2 separate regions of the Homo sapiens genome follow, and region 2 is linked to region 1. The links come from fine-mapping of genetic effects on gene expression. Tissue or cell type: macrophages. Region 1 holds a variant in brackets; the other region holds the start of a gene. All regions are shown on one strand. Distances are from middle to middle.

Region 1 (8,000 bases):
GATGAAGGGTCTGGGGTGGCATAAAGAAAAAATACAACCTGGATCCCCACCTCACCACAGAGACAAAATGTGGTTCAGGATATACTTAAGACATGAACACAAAAAAGGAAAATTTTAAATCTTGGAAGAAAATGTAGGAGAATATGTTTAGGACATTGAGAATAGGAAAAACAAGACACAAAAGGCCCAAGTTATAAAGAAAAAGAGAAACTAAAAGATTAAGCTTGTGTGGCACCAAAGGCATCATAAAAAGTCATAGATTAGATGCATTTTCGATGGATATATTCAGCCAGGAATCAGCACCCAGAACTGTGATGAATGCTGATTACAAACTACTCAGAGAAAGATAAACGACACAAGGCGAGTCTGTAAGGCTGCAAGGCTGTAACCTCACTGCAATCAAGGCAGATGCAAATTCATGCCACAAGGAGACACCAGGTGTGTCTATCAGACAGACAAAGGCTGGCCAAGACCGGCGTGGTAGAGAGTGGCGAGATGGGGGCGCCTGCGCTTTAGAACAGAGGATCCCGTGGAAGGCCTGGGGCGACATCTACAAAAGCTGAAGGTGCAGGCACCGTTCACGCAGCAGCTTCACTCTGAGGCAAGGTGGCGAGAGGCACTCACGTGTATCCACGCTGAAGAACACGCACCACACACGTGCCCGTTTATGTGTATTGAGCACCTACTGCGTACCAGGCACTGGGTGTGGACAGGGTGGGAGGAGACAGTGGTTAACAAGGCTGGGTTCCTGCACGTGCGGCTCTCAAGCTCCAGGGGAGAGAGATGGGCCGGGCCAATGAACAAGTTACACGTACAGCACGTCTGCAGTCCACAGTCCTCAGGAGAAAAATAAAGCAGGAAAAGGGAGCAGGGTCAGAGGGCAGCTGGGGAAGCCTGATTCCAGGTGGGGCGTGGGGCTGGGGAGGCTTCTGGGAAGGTGCTGCCAGATGGGGGCTCTGAATGAGAGGGGAGCGGCCACCATATGCCGGAGAAGAGCTTCCCCACCGATGCCCAGGCTGGGGGCCGGGTAGGCTGGGGCCCAGCAGAGCTGGGTGCAGCGAGTGAGGGTGTGTTGGATGTGGGGCTCCATGGTGGCAGGGGCTGAATTCTGAGTTTGCTTATTAAGAAAAGGAACAAAAGGCAAGAAGAAACTAGAACCGGCCTCACTGTCCCCAGACAGGAGAATGGATAATGGAGTCACGGCAGATCGCGGAGGTGAAGGAACAAAACCTAGATGACCATCAAAGATACATATTGAAGTCAGAGCCAAAGAAACGGGCTTTGCGGGCCACGCATCGTGCGACGGCGCCAATAGGAGGTAAAGGCCTCTAAGTGGGCACCACGTGTGTGCCAGGGCTCATGGCCAGGGAGGGAAAGTGTAATGTCACCAGAGGGAATGGGACCGGGGTAGGGTCTGGGGCTCGACCTCTGTAATTCCTTAAGCTGGGAACACAACACACACACACACACACGCAGCGCTCTTATATAAGTCTCTGTAAATTTTTACATGGCTAAAATGCTCCTTAACATGAAAAAAATTCAAATGAAGCCGGTAAGCCACTCTGGATAGTCAGAACAAGAGGAGATGAGGCTCATTTGGTTAAGCCCTAAATCTGTTACCAGCAGTGTGAAGATGAACATAGCTACACAATAAGAAAACACGGTGAATTCCTGCTTCTCCTGTTTTACAACAGCAATCCTGGTGGTAGGACCCAGGCACACACCATTCATGGCAGAACAAGAGAAGAATCTGACCCTTCCGTCAGATTTCCATTTCCAGGCAGTGCTGCGTCAAGCTGCTGGGATGGAGGGAAAGTTGTGTGGAGATTCCGCAGGTGAGCAGGGCGGGGATGACAGCCCCCAGCCCGACCGCAGGGCCCTCCGCCTCTCACTGCGGACACTGTGTGGGGGCTGTCCTGGGCACCAGGGGATGTGAGCAGCTTCCTGGCCTCACCCACTGGGACAAGGAGCACCCCTACTGTACCCCAGTTGCTCGTGGGGGGCAAAACCACCCCCGGCTGAGAACCACCGTTCTGCATCACCAGGGTGTCCAGCACCATGAAGAACTCTCACCCGTCTATGGAACAAAGATGGAAGGTTCTGGCAGCCTTCCCACCCAGCCAAACTGGCCAGCTCCGATGGCTCCGGAGCAGCCTGTAAAATACTACCCCAACACAACAGTGATGTCAACTTTCCCGCTTGCCCCAGCAAAACGTTCTCCCTGCCTCGCAGTCCTGTTGACCTTTATTCTTTCTTTTGAACAGACAGTTTTGACACCCACTGACCTGATGCAGACACAGGTCTGTGCTGCTCTGTGTGGGGAGGAGACCCTCGGGGCCCCTCGGAAGCAGAAAGGGGCAGGCGGACTCACCGATGAGGGAGTTGAGGGAGGAGTAGGAGCTGGCGCGGCGCATCTTGTCGATGGTCTCGAAGGACAGGATATGCTCCTCATTCTCGGGGCTGCCCAGGGTGCTGCTGGCGCTGCTGCTGGTGCTGAGGTTTCCGGGGGAGAACGCCACCGCGCCACCAGCTGCCCGAGACGCAACGGGGTCAGTGGGGTGCTCCCGGGACCCTCCTTTTGGTCTTACAGTTAATGGCATGACTGAGATACATATTTTCTTCTAAATAAAGCTCAGCACACCCAGGCACAAACACACCCTGGTACACACACACCCTGGTGCGCACACACCCTGGCATGTACACACACCCGACATACACACACCCTCATACACACACACCCTGGCGCACACACCCTGGCGCGTACAGACACAACCTGGCGCGTATACACACCCAGTACACACACCCTGGCACACACACACCCTTGTACACACACACACACACCCTGGCATGCACACACCCTTGTGCACACACACCCAGCACACACACACCCTGGCGCACACACACCTGGCGCGCGCACACACCTGGCGCACACACACACCCGGCGCACACACACCCTGGTACACACGCACCCTGGCGCACACACCCTGGCACACACGCCCCGGCGCACACACAGGCACAGGCACTCACTGATCTCCCTGGGAGCCAAGCTCCCCACCCGCAGACCACAGGTTACTGGGAGACGGGGGCAGGGCACAGCCCTCCAAGGAGCCACCGCCTCAACTGCGGCTGCGCTTGAGCTCCCTGCCGCATTGGTAACGGGCCCGCTGGCTATTCTGGGGGCTGGCCTACGCCTCCTTGCCATGCTCACGTCTGGAAGGGTGACTCATCACCATGTTGGCAGATGGGACTTCAGGGCACGCACTTAGACGAAGGGGCAGGGGCAGAGTGGTGCTTACTCAGATACAGTGTTTCAGAAAAAACAACCCCAATCTCTCCCAATCCAATAACCCGATTTCCAGGATCTTACATTCCTCTGTCAAACTCAGGTTCTGCAAAGATTTGTTGAGGCTCCTGGCTGTGGCGACAGCACGGATGTTTCCATAGGAGCTCACAGAACGAAGTCTGGGGGTGCACGGGCTGTCTCGCACTGGGGTCAAACTCCCTCCCTCTGGGAAAGAAGGAGAAAGACAAATTACAATGGGCTTCCAGGTGGAGGCCAGCGTGTCTTCTGACACTCAGCAGCTGGGACACTCGGTGACGGCAGCTGCTACCTGTGCTGCAACAAATGTCAGAGCAGGGGCTGCACAGCTCAGGGAGACTCAGACGTGAGCGGAGGCTCTGCGGGATAGCACTGGACAAACAACAACCGCTTGTGGCTCTGTGCATATTAAATTACAAAAGACAACAGGGGAGAGGCTGGTGGCTGCGGCCTGTCCGAGTGCACACGAGGTGCATGGTGACGTGGGCCGTGAGCCGTGCTCCCCGGGAAGCCGCAGCAGAGCAATGACCGTCCACACTCAGTCTGGCTCACCCTTCTCCCCTCCTGGGCTTCCTAGAAGCAGTGAGGCCTCACTGCTGATGACAAGCCCCTGCACGGCAGAGACGGCTGTGTGGAAGCGGGAGGGGCTGCCGGCAGCGATGAGATAGGAACTGTACTCTCCAGTCAAAACGACACGTGTGAGAAAGCACGCCTGACA[T/G]GACTCACCGAGCCACGGAGCCAAGAGCAGTGTGATGAAATTACTCATCGCAGGAAGACGGCCCCTGCGCTTTTCCGCAAGCTCCTACTGCAGAAGTTTTGTCATACTTCAAGGTCTCTGTGAGTTTAATTTCCAAAAAGGGTAAAAAGAAAGGAAAAATGTAAGAGGGTCAGTGTGGCCCTCTTTCCTGCCCTTTTAAATCTGGCAGGTGCCTAAAAAGATGAGAAAAACAGGGACCCCTTGCGGCAGGTATCTGAGAAACCTGCGCTTAGACTCTGCGAGGGTGAGCAAGACTGGGCCGCGGCCTGCACTAGAACCGCCAGGCGAGGTGCTCTGCGGGTTCACAGGAGAAGACGCCATACCTGTGGTTGCTGGAGAAGGCAAGGCGTAGTTCTTTTCCTCTTCTATGAACTGCAGGGCCACGGTGCAGAAATTGCTTTCATACTGAACCACAAGATGACTCAGAGCCACCACCAGCTCCTGCCGAGAGGGAGAAGGGACAATAACAGTCACTGGGGCTGGAAAATGATTGTGGAGCAGCAGTGAGACTTGAGTCACCAACAGAAAAAAGAAAGGTTAAGACAAAACCGTGCAATTGGCATCAGAAACAGGGACCATCCCTTTTCGAACCGTCAGAGCAGAGGCCTTGGAATAGCAGAGTGCTGGGAGACGGCAGGCCACTGGCTCACGGGGGAAGCCCAGAATGCCTGCCAGAATCCTCCCCACTGCTAGAGGCGCACGACGCATCGGGGGTCTCGTAAGGACACGGTGAGTCACAGGACTCCAGAGAGGGAAAGGTAGGAGGCCTCACAGCCTCTCGCTTACGGTGACCACTGGGACCCTGGCTGAAAACGCCGCTCTAGATCACACCCGATGGCTGGCGGCCTTTCTGAATCTGAGCGCCCCAGGGCCGAGTGCAGCGGACAAGCCGAAGCCTGCTCTTTTCAACACATGTGAAACTTTCATTGGTAGATGTTTCTAGTCCCTAAGAGGGAACGGGAAAAGTTGTAGAACTAAAACATCATCTTTAGGACCAAATGCCTTGGTCCAAGGGAACAGACACAATTTGCCTCTCTTTTAGGACAGTTCAGTGCTGTGACAGGAACAGCTGGAGATCCTAGAAGTCACTGGGGAACAGAAGGGGGATGTAGGTTTAAAAAGCGGAAAGAACGTTTTTTTCCCTACGACAACTTTTTCTGCCTTTTTTTTTTCTGAAAAGAAAAAATACGGATTCTTAGCAGAAAGCCAAGCGCTGTGAGAGGACCCCTTGCTAGTCGCGTGACGCCCCTGTCTCCACAGCGGCTGGATGAGCAGGCTCTGGATGGGCGCCCACCAGGGACCAGGGTCTTCTCGTGGCCACCCCACTCTCCGTCTACGCACTCTCTGTACACGCACTTTCCCACCCCAGCCTTACATGCCCCGGGCTTCCTCCTATCATGCTTTGTGGTTTCCCTGATGCCGGCCCCTCACTCTCCTAGGTCCAGGCTGGCTGTCCAGCTGCCGGCTCTTCACCTGCACCCCAAACTCTCCCTGCCCTATGAACTGCGGGCACCGTCTACTTTCCCTTCAGCCTGCAGCGCCCTCTTGATTTGCGCCGATGGAACTGCAAGTCTCTCACTGCTCAGAATGGAGCCCTGGCATCACCCTCCACCCGCCCCTCCCACCCTGCTGGGCACCAAGGGCCATGGCCCAGTGTGCGTCTTCACGGCCATGGCCCACGCCCCGGTTCTGGCGCTCGTCTCCAACTGCCTAAGTCACTGTCCCAGGCTCCCCTGGCAAACCACAGAACCCCCGCTGCCTTCCCTGTGCAAGAGGAGTGAGGCACTGCCGAGACGGGGCCTCCGACAAAGCGAACACCCACTGGGCCCCTTCCAGGGAAGATCAAGGCTGCACCTGTCTTCAGAAAGCACCGATTTTTTTCCCTTTCCTTCTGACATCAGGTGAGAAAAGCCAGAGCTGGGAGCTGGCATGGATTAACGTGCACCGAGGTGGTGGGCCCTTCGATTCAGGGGAGGCCAACAGGGGCCACGTCTGTTATTCAAGGGGAATGTCCAGAGAGCACTCACTCCCGAACACACATCCTGCTGCGCACGGGGCCTCCCTCGGGGGCCGCACATCCCTCACTCCTGAACACACATCCTGCTGCATACAGGGGCCTCCCTCACTCCCGAACACACATCCTGCTGCGTACGGGGGCCTCCCTCGGAGGCCGCACATCCTGCTGTGTACGGGGGCCTCCCTCGGAGGCCGCACATCCTGCTGCGTACGGGGGCCTCCCTCGGAGGCCGCACATCCTGCTGCGTACGGGGGCCTCCCTCGGAGGCCGCACATCCTGCTGCATACGGGGGCCTCCCTCGGAGGCCGCACATCCTGCTGCGTACGGGGGCCTCCCTTGGAGGCCGCACATCCTGCTGGAGATGGCGGGCCTCGCTCTGGAGGCTGCTGCCTGGCACACAGCAAAGAGCTCTCCTTTGCGTTGGACCCTTCCTGCCCTTCCTGAATGGAGCTGGGCTCTGACAGCAACACACACACGCACTGGCCTTCTTTAGGATATTCATGCAGAACCCATCAGAGGGTCTGGCAGAGGTGCTCAGCCAGGGGTGTGGGAGCTCCCCTCTCTCTCAGCTTTTGCAAGATGAGCTTGGCTGGTGTTGTCATGTGACCCCTTCCCCCTGAGGGCTCCCCAGCAGCACACAGACGGGGAGGCCACATTAGTGGCCACGGGCTCCACACTGGCCAGGCTTCCCAGGTCCTCTGACCGGTCGCTTGTCAAAGCCATTGTCTGTCCTCCTGCTCCCTGGCTGGGGCTGAGCAGCCTTCCTCGAAAGGGAGGCAGCTTTGCCTGGACTCATACTTTCACCTGTCAGCTCAGCCCTTCCTGTCGGCTCCCCACCTTCAGAGTCCATGCGTGATCCTGGAACCTGCTCCTTCATGGCTGGCCCCTTCAACGAGGGGCAACTCTGCTCTTCTGTTGCTCAGACCCAAACCCCCAGGATTCCCTGTCCTCTTCTTTTCTCGTACCCTCTCCACCTGTGAGCAAGTGCTGTGAGCTCCGCATTCAAAGTGCTGGTGCCTCTTCCCTCCTGCGCCGTCCCTGCAGCTGGGCGAGCGGCCCCTCTCACCTGGGCAGCCGAAGGTGAGGTCCTGCCCCCAAACCCCTCCAGGCCTCTGATCACGAACGACAAGGCTTGTGCCTGGCTGGGCCACCTGCCCCACTGCCCTCCTGGCCTCTTGTGCCCACGCCCTCTGATGGGCACAGCCCCTGCACTGGGCCTCTCCCTGTGGCAAGGCCTCCCTGTGCCCCCAGCCCCATCCATACTGGCTCTGCTCAGCTGCCACCCCGGCCCACCACTCTCACACCCAGCCCCTCCCCCAGCTCCAGGGGTAACTTTCTTGAGAGAAGAGGCAGGGTTAGTGCCCTGCGGGGTCACTGAGGCCCCAGCCGGCCCGGCACGTGGCACGTGCCTGACAAGTGTGTTCTGGGTGGGTGCAGCCCTCCCTGCAGGGGTGTCGTCTGTAGCACATGGTTAGTTTCTAACCGTGAACTGGTGCCAGGACTCAAGGACATCTTTCTTGGACACATGTCCTGCCCCGCTGGGGGCCCACACACTTCCCAGTGTTGACACGGCTGCACTGACCATGGGCTACTGGCCCACCTCGCCTCTACCCCTTGCCCACCTGCCCTGAGGGCCACCCACTCCGCTCCAACAACACAGCACTGGCTAATATTTGTCTTGTGACCTGTGCTCAGGCATCATAAAACTCAGCTCCTGTGACCACAGCAGGCCCGAGCAGCGTCCTGGGAAGCATCTTGGGAGACCAAGGCCTGGGATTACAGAGTGGATCACTTGAGCCCAGGAATTTGAGGCCAGCCTGGGGCAACACAGCGAGACCCCATCTCTACAAAAAATACAAAAATTAGCCCAGCATGGTGGCACGCGCCTGTGGTCCCAGCTACTCAGG
Region 2 (8,000 bases), 350 kb after region 1:
AGGGCCAGGTGCTGTGGCTCACACCTGTAATCCCAGCACTTTGGGAGGCTGAGGCAGGTGAACGACCCGAGGTCAGGAGTTCAGGACCAGCCTGGCCAACATGGTGAAACCCCATCTCCACTAAAAATACAAAAAAAACTAGCCAGGCGCCTGTAATCCCAGCTACTTGGGAGGCTGAGGCAGGAGAATAGCTTGATCCTGGGAGGCGGAGGTTGCAGTGAGTCAAGACCACACCACTGCACTCCAGCCTGGGCAACAAGAATGAAACTCCATCTCAAAAAAAAAAAAAAAAAAAAAAAAAAACCACCCCAGGCTGAGCGTGTTGGCTGATGCCTGTAATCCTAGCATTTTTGGAGGACAAGGCAGGAGGATTGCTTGATCCCAGGAGTTCAAGACCAGCCTGGGCAACACAGTGAGACTCCCCAACCCCAGACACACTGGCGCACACTTATAGTCTCAGCTACTGGGGAGGCTGAGGTGAGAGGATCACTCAGGCCCAGGAGGTCGAGGCTGCAGTGAGCCGTGTGATCTCACCACTGTACTCCAGCCTGGATGACAGAGCAAGACCCTGTCTCAAAAAAAAAAAAAAAAAAAAAGAAACAGAAAAACACTCCACAAATGGGGTTGTTCAGCCTGCAGTGTTGGACTACAGTGTGTTTGGTAATAAATCTGAATTAGTATGAATATTTACAATAAAAGAAAAAAAAAGTTTGCTGACTTCTCAAAGACAAAGAGAGAGGCCTGGCCATAGCCCAGTTGCCCCTTCAGTTATGGCATCAGGGAGCCCCTGTTCCCACCCTCCAGAAACTGTCACACACACTGTGCCAAATGTCAGCTGCCATTTGTCTTTATCTTTGAACCTATGCCATTATTCTTCTTAAATGTGGCCTGTTTCATTCTCTTATGCTACCATCCCCACTCAATATCATTTGAGTTTGCAACTTCTGTCCTATAGCATGTGTGATACGGTCCTTGAGGGAAGAGATGACAAGATTCCAAAGGACCTGACCTTTGGAAGAGGGAAGAGATGACAAGATTCCAAACTCCCACACACTCAACTGAAGATGTTAGCTGCTGATTTTCTCCACCGAAAAACAGATACAGCAAACTTTCTCCCCAGCTCCTTTCTAAGCAGCAATCTCAGTAGTCACTAAGAGTCACAGAACTTTTGTTTCTCTTAACAACCTGTGAAAAGCTTATTAGGGAATGTTGATCATTCACAAATTAATGTTTTAATTAAAAGGTCAAACGTATACCCATTAATCAGTTTCAAACTGTTGGAACATAGGTTTAGGACAGCAGAGAGAACCACATTTCAAAATAACAACAACAAAAAAACTGCCCTCCACAAAGAATTTTTTAAAAAGTCTTTTCATATATGTATAGCAACCACAAAAGCTTTTAACTATATAGTTACTACTAAAGATGTCCATAAGATAGAATTTATACAACCTCCCCCAATGACTAACTTATTTAACTCCTTAAAATGCTTTTGGATGAAACAAATTTTCCTAACCTTTTAGAAGTAAGCCAAGTCAGTAGCTAACTGGTTACTACTGACTGACTGACTAGAGTTACCAGAAGTTTTATTTATTTATTTATTTTTGAGACACAGTCTCACTCTGTCCCCTAGGCTGGAGTGCAATGGTGCGATTTCGGCTCACTGCAACCTCTGCCTCCCAGGTTCAAGCGATTCTCCAGCCTCAGCTTCTCGAGTAGCTGGGATTACGGGCACCTGCCACCAAGCCCAGCTAATTTTTGTATTTTTAGTACAGACAGGGTTTCACCATGTTGGCCGGGCTGGTCTCAAACTCCTGACCTCAGGTGATCCGCCTGCCTTTGGGAGGCCTGCCTTGGCCTCCCAAAGTGCTGAGATTACAGGCGTGAGCCACCGCGCCCAGCCCAGAAGTGTAATCTTATATATGTTCAACATCATATACTAAAAAACAATAATATTCCATAAACATATACATAAGCCTAGAGAAAATCAAACATTGTAACACCAACTTCCTCTTTTATACCACTGAAATGTGCAAATAAAAGCAGCCTGGAGGGAGAAAATAACTTACAAAAAGACAAATTATAAGTGTGCATAGAGGAGAAGCAGTACTACCCTTTTGCTTTTGAGGCCAGGAAATAGATGGGTGTTTTATGAAGGACAAATCCAACAAAATTCGGCTGTTTTCTTTCCTACCAGCTGCTTGTGAGTCACTCTCCACACTCCAAACACCATGCGGACACCCTAAAACCTGCACCCAAGTCTCGACGCCTCATACCCTAACTCACGATTAAAGAAATCCTGTTTCCAAGTTACAGCAACAGGACACTACATAAAAGGAGGAAAATCTAGCTTCAAGAGAAATTGTTTAGAAGACTAGAATGAAGTTCAGTGTAACTTTATAATAACTTTGCACTAATTTGTTACTAGTTGAACATTTTCCAGTAATCTCATTTCCTAGCATAGTATATCAGACTTCTGCACTTCACCCAGCTTGGATATTTTAAAAAGTAGACTAATCATGTGGGTATAAAGATTATATCGCACGTTGTCCTTCCTCTAAGTGTTTACAGAACTAAGTAGTATGCCAAAGAGCATGTAAATACTCGCAATGCTCTATTTTCAAATTTGCTTAACTTTTATTATCTGAATTAGAACTTAGTTGGAATTGAATTAACACTACCCAGTGAATAATGACTAACCAAAACAGCATTTTCCATTTTCAACCAAAAACTGCAGTCTGAAATGGCTTTTGCTTTCTAGTTGACTTACAACGTGTGGCTAGGGGGAAATGTCGGCGCTTTCCCAAGGACACTTTTCGGGCTGTAAACTTTCTTTGTTGGGGAAACTACCAAGTTCAAGGGGTGCCTTCAGAATCCACTTACCCGATCCTTCATCCTCCAGCTCTGAGCTAAGGATTTGGAGCCTTCAATTTTCTCACAGTGCCTCTTTTTCATAAAAGCCAAAGGTAGGTTCCAGTCTGTAAGATCAGCCTCATCTTCCTCCCCCAGGCCCAGAAGAGGCGATTGCAGCATTTCGGACTCCATCAGTGGGGGAGGGGGTGGGGGAGTCCTTGGCAGCAAGCGCTCGAGAACCTCCAGCCTTAAAAACTAGCGTGTACCAGAATTGGTGAAATAAGAAACAAAAACGGGAAATCGAAAACCAAATGGATAAAGAGTGCGGAGACCCTTACTCAGGCAAAAGTCTGAGATCCTTATCTCTAACTCTGAGCGGGAAGTGGGGAGGTGGGGGCCGCTAGGAAATGGGGCAGCCCAAGAAGCTCCGCAGACACACACCACCCCAGGTCCCAAGCCACTGGCTGCTCCTGAGGCTGTACGTTTCCAGAGGGGCTGCGAGGGGAGCTGCCAAAAGCGTAAGAGACTTCAGGCCTCACGATGACCCTGCTCTCGGCCTCCACCGCCTCAGCAGTTCCGAAGACAGGCAGGCCGCTCTTGGTGCCGGTTCGCCCACTGGGCCGACTGGGCTGAGGTCTCCGGCCAAGGGATCGGGTTCAAAGGGCCCTGGGTCTCCTCCAGCCACTCTCAGCCCTGCGGGTCCCGCACTCGTCTGAGCTGCTGCAACCAGAGCCACGACCGGCCCATCGTGCTCGCCTGCACCCGGTTCCTCAACCTCAGGTCCGCGCGGCCTGGCTGGTCCTGGCCTTCAGCCCCGAGGCTCTCTCCTGCCTGAGAACGAGTCCTGAGAAACGGGCGACACGGAACCACGGAGGAAAGGGACAATGTGGGCTTATTGGGTCATGGGAGCTTTGCCCTCTGGTTTGGAGCTACAGTGAAACTCATCTCATCAGCCCATCAAGGAGGACGCCATATTGCCAGGACCCAGAATGCACCGCGGCCTACGGCGTGGCCGACAGACCAAACCTCCTCAGAGCGGTCTCTCCCCGCCACCCAGCATGCAGCGAAGGAGAAAGAGTCCCCGACCCCGTTACCTCGGTTACCATAATTCCGTTTTCCCCAGTTAATCGCCATTTGTTCAGTAGAGGCGTGTTATTAAAGTCAATCCTACAAATGAAACTGTCGGTTTAATTTATTTTTTCAAAAACATTGTCATTATAAATGAAGTTACATGCTCCTGAAATTAAAGGAATCAACCGCCTTGTTTCTTCCAGATTTTGAAAAAGCGGCAAAAGCTTCACTGATAATATTAGAAAATATTAAAAAGCACTGATAATATTAGAAAATATAGTACTTTTTTTTTTGGAGTGTAGTGTCCTCCACAGTGTCAATCAGATTTTCTCTTTAATTTTTTCATAGAGAACCAAGTGAAAGGCCGGGCGCCGTGGCTCACGCCTGTAATCCCAGCACTTTGGGAGGCCGAAGCGGGCAGATCACGAGGTCAAGAGATCGAGACCAGCCTGGCCAACATGGTGAAACCCCGTCCCTACTAAAAATACACAAATTAGCTGGGCGTGGTGGTGCGCGCCTGTAATCCCAGCTACTCAGGAGGCTGAGGCAGGAGAATTGCTTGAACCCGGGAGGCGGAGGTTGCAGTGGGCCAAGATCGTGCCACTGCACTCCAGCCTGGGAGACAGAGCAAGACTCTTCAGATGAAGAAGGGTCTGAAGCAACAGAAGAAGAGTCTGGAGCAAGATTCGATGAAAAAAAATTTCATCTAATACAATTTTTTGTTTAATCTGTTTCGTTTTCTGAGCAGTTTATCCTTTTTAAATTTTTTTCCCACTTCTTGGTAGCAGTAGTTTATTCTTATTTTGATATAGCTTCACGTGCAGACATCTAAAACTACATGTCTGTGCGTGGAGGCAAGCCTCTTGTGTGACTCTCTTTTTCAATTCAGGAAATTTGGCTCATTTACAATGTATAGAGAACTGTGTAAGGTGGACTATAAAACCAAATGTAGGCAGGGCACCGTGGCTCACGCCTATAATCCTAGCCCTTTGGGAAGCCGAGGAGGGTGGATCACGAGTTCAGGAGTTCGAGACCAGCCTGGCCAACATGGTGAAACGCCGTCTCTAATAAAAATACAAAAATTAGCTGGGCGTGGTGGCGTGCGTCTGTAGTCTCAGCTGCTCGGGAGGCTGAGGCAGGAGAAGAGCTGGAACCTGGGAGGCAGAGGTTGCAGTGAGCCGAGATTACACCACTGCATTCCAGCCTGGGTGACAGAGTGAGATTCCATCTCAAAAATAAATAAATAAATAAATAAATAAATAAGAATAAAACGAGGCCAGGCGTGGTGGTGCACGCCTGTAATCCCAGCACTTTGGGAGGCTGAGGTGGGTGGATCATGAGGTCAGGAGTTCAAGACCATCCTGGCCAAGATGGTCTTGATCTCTCAGGATGGTTTTCCGGGGCTTAGACACATGTGGCCATCCATATCAAAATCTTGATGGCATTTGTGTTCCTTTCAAAATGAGAATGAAGAATACAATCCCAGACCTTTCTCACCCAGCACAAAGCAAGCCTTTAATAAAGGCTACAGGATTAAATCATTGTCATTCCGCACATTCGTTTGGTTATTACACCCCATGGAGCCAATTCTCCTATTGAAACTCAGGGCACCCTCTCTGTTGGCAGAGACTATCCTCACAGTTACCAGCAGAGGCTTCAGGGATGCAGGGTCTTAGGAAGACCCCGTTCTCATCTGAAGGCAACAAAATCACTCCTGTCCTCTGCCTTGTCACCTTGCTCCCCACCTCCGGTGGCTGTAGACAGCTGCATTCCAGCAGCTCTTGCAGGAAGTCACAGTTACAGAAAAGCAGCAACGCTAAACCCATTCATCCCTAACTAGCTCTGTGACCTGGGAAAGCCCACTGAATCTGTGTGAGACTCAGTTTCCTCACCTATAACGTGTGTGACCTTGGGAAATCCATTTTTCGTATCTGAAATTCTAAACGAAGGTGTCAGTGAGCACGTTGAAGTCCAAACCCACCAGGTGGTCAGAATCGCCCAGGAAACTAAAATTCAGGATGCCCAGCTTCCAACCCAGAGCCCCAGATCGGGGAGCAGGGAGACCGGGATTCAGAATCTGCATTTTTTTTTTTTTGCAGTTTTTACAGTTTTATTTAAACACAAAACATGCACATGAGCTGTCTGCTCGTTTTCTTCACTGCGCAGACTGGCATGGGGGTCAGTGACTCTGATGGCCAGCTGGGCGGCTCTTTCTGTGGTGGCTTCGCGGTTCCTGGAGGAAACACTGTGAGCGATCTCAGCGCAGTAAGAAGTGTTGTACATCAGCAGCACTTCCAGCTCCTTGACGTTGTAGACTGAACTTCCAGAAGCCAGTGGGCAGCGTGTGCTTTGTTTTTTTGTTGCTCCCATAACCAATGTTGGGCATCAAGATCTGGCCCTTGAACCTTCTACCAACCCTGTTGTCAATACCTCTGGGTTTCTGCCAGTTACGCTTAATCGTGACACATCGGTCTGACTGGTGCCGGATGAACTTCTTGGTTCTCTTTTTGATGATCTTGGGCTTCACAGGGGGTCTGAGGGCGGCCATGATGCCAAGGAGGAGATGGCTGCCCCCTCCATAGGCAGCGCCAAGGAAGAGAGCCAGAATCTGAATTCTTAAATCAGGTCGCTCTGAGGATAGTTCACAGCCAGGCAGACTTGGAGGTCTTAGACAATATTCGCTCTAAAGTCTCCTGCAGTGATTCAGTTCGGGTCCCATATTGGGCCCTTAATCAATATGTGTGGCAAATGAATGAATGCTATGAAGTAATTGTCCAGACTTCCATCTGACAAAGCAGAAAGAGACTCACCTTCTCCTCAAAACAGCAGAACAAAACACACCCTCTACTGTTTAACACATGTGACCCCGAGCCAGGGGTCCACTCGGGTCCTGGACTGAGGATGAAGACACACACACATTCTATGGTCCCCAACCTGCCACCAATTCCTGCAGATTTCAGCAAAGCCTCTGCCCTCCTCCACCCTTGGTCTCCACGTCTGTGACATCAGGAACTTGGAGAAGGCGAATTTCTAAGGATCCTTCCAGTTTGAAATTCTGTGATTCATGTAAAGACCAGAAAGGGGCTTGTGACTGCTCAGCTCTCACCCTGAAGGTTCAAGGATGGGCCTGAATCATTTTATGGCATCTTGACATTTAAAAGAAACCTCGTTCTAGTATGTCACGGATGATTCTCTTCAAGTCCCAGCCAAGCATTTGGAAGTGGCTCTAGGTTTTTGAAAGGCAGTGAGCATCTGTGAGTAATGGCAGCCTGGAAATTCAAGGGCTGACTTGTCTCACCTGGGTGATTCCATGACTGTGGCATGTGGTGGGCTGGCCACTCGGGGCTGCAGTTCCAATTTCCAATGTCTCCAGTTCTTCACAAGCAAGGACATCTATTGTCCACAGAGACTTTAAATAAGATCCTTTTTTTTTTTTTTTTTTTTTGAGACAGAGTCTTGCTCTTGTCGCCCAGGCTGGAGTGCAGTGGCGCAATCTTGGCTCGCTGCAACCTCCGCCTCCCGGGTTCAGGCGATTTTCCTGCCTCAGCCTCCCGAGTAGCTGGGATTACAGGTGCCCGCCACCACGCCTGGCTAATTTTTGTAATTTTAGTATAGACGGGGTTTCACCATGTTGGCCAGGCTGGTCTTGAACTCCTGACCTCAGGCGATCCACCCGCCTTGGCCTCCCAAAGTGCTGGGATTACAGGCATGAGCCACCGTGTCCAGCTAAAATACTTTAATCTTAAAAACAAAATGTTAGGAATCTCAGAAAACACACAAACCTGGTTTGATTCAAGCTATGAAAACGGTCATGACCAGCCTGGGCAAAATAGTGAGACCCTGTCTCTACCAAAAAAAAAAATTTAATATTTATACCTGTGGTCCCAGCTACTTGTGAGGTTGAAGCAGGAATTTGAGCCCAGGAATTTGAGGCTTCAGTGAGCTATGATTGCACCACGGCACTCCAGCCTAGTCAGTAGACCAAGATCCCATCTTAATTTTTAAAAAATGCAGAAATTAAGAAAGAAAGTGGGGGAGGGTGTTGGCAACAACCTGCTCCATGAGTCTCTTACAGT

Which allele goes with the higher level. Positions count from the first base shown, and alleles are read on the strand shown. Sizes are in standard deviations (SD) of each study's normalised expression.
In carriers of allele T in region 1, the expression in macrophages of the gene that starts at base 3,837 in region 2 tends to be higher than with G alone (large effect, 1.0 SD a copy in Nedelec 2016).

The links. PIP is the estimated chance that this variant, and not a neighbour inherited with it, causes the effect.
Region 2: RPTOR starts here. The variant in region 1 is fine-mapped to the expression of RPTOR in macrophages (Nedelec 2016, PIP 0.95). The same link has a PIP of 0.9 or more in monocytes, monocytes after LPS, monocytes after Pam3CSK4 and monocytes after R848.

Annotation. Positions count from the first base shown.
Region 1 is chr17:80,888,237-80,896,236 of GRCh38, reverse strand. RPTOR (regulatory associated protein of MTOR complex 1) reads right to left here. Exons shown (of 34, transcript NM_020761.3): 18 at 4,400-4,517; 19 at 3,368-3,508; 20 at 2,372-2,530. LOC124904075 reads left to right here and starts at 4,066. Exons shown (of 2, transcript XM_047437253.1): 1 at 4,066-5,977; 2 at 7,789-8,000. The coding sequence starts at 5,493. The coding sequence ends at 7,813. The variant T/G (reference allele first, on the strand shown) is at 4,038.
Region 2 is chr17:80,540,675-80,548,674 of GRCh38, reverse strand. RPTOR (regulatory associated protein of MTOR complex 1) reads right to left here and starts at 3,837. Exons shown (of 34, transcript NM_020761.3): 1 at 2,884-3,837. The coding sequence starts at 3,045. It also overlaps the pseudogene RPL32P31. RefSeq lists enhancers at 2,490-3,316, 3,244-3,343, 3,624-3,983, 3,317-4,143.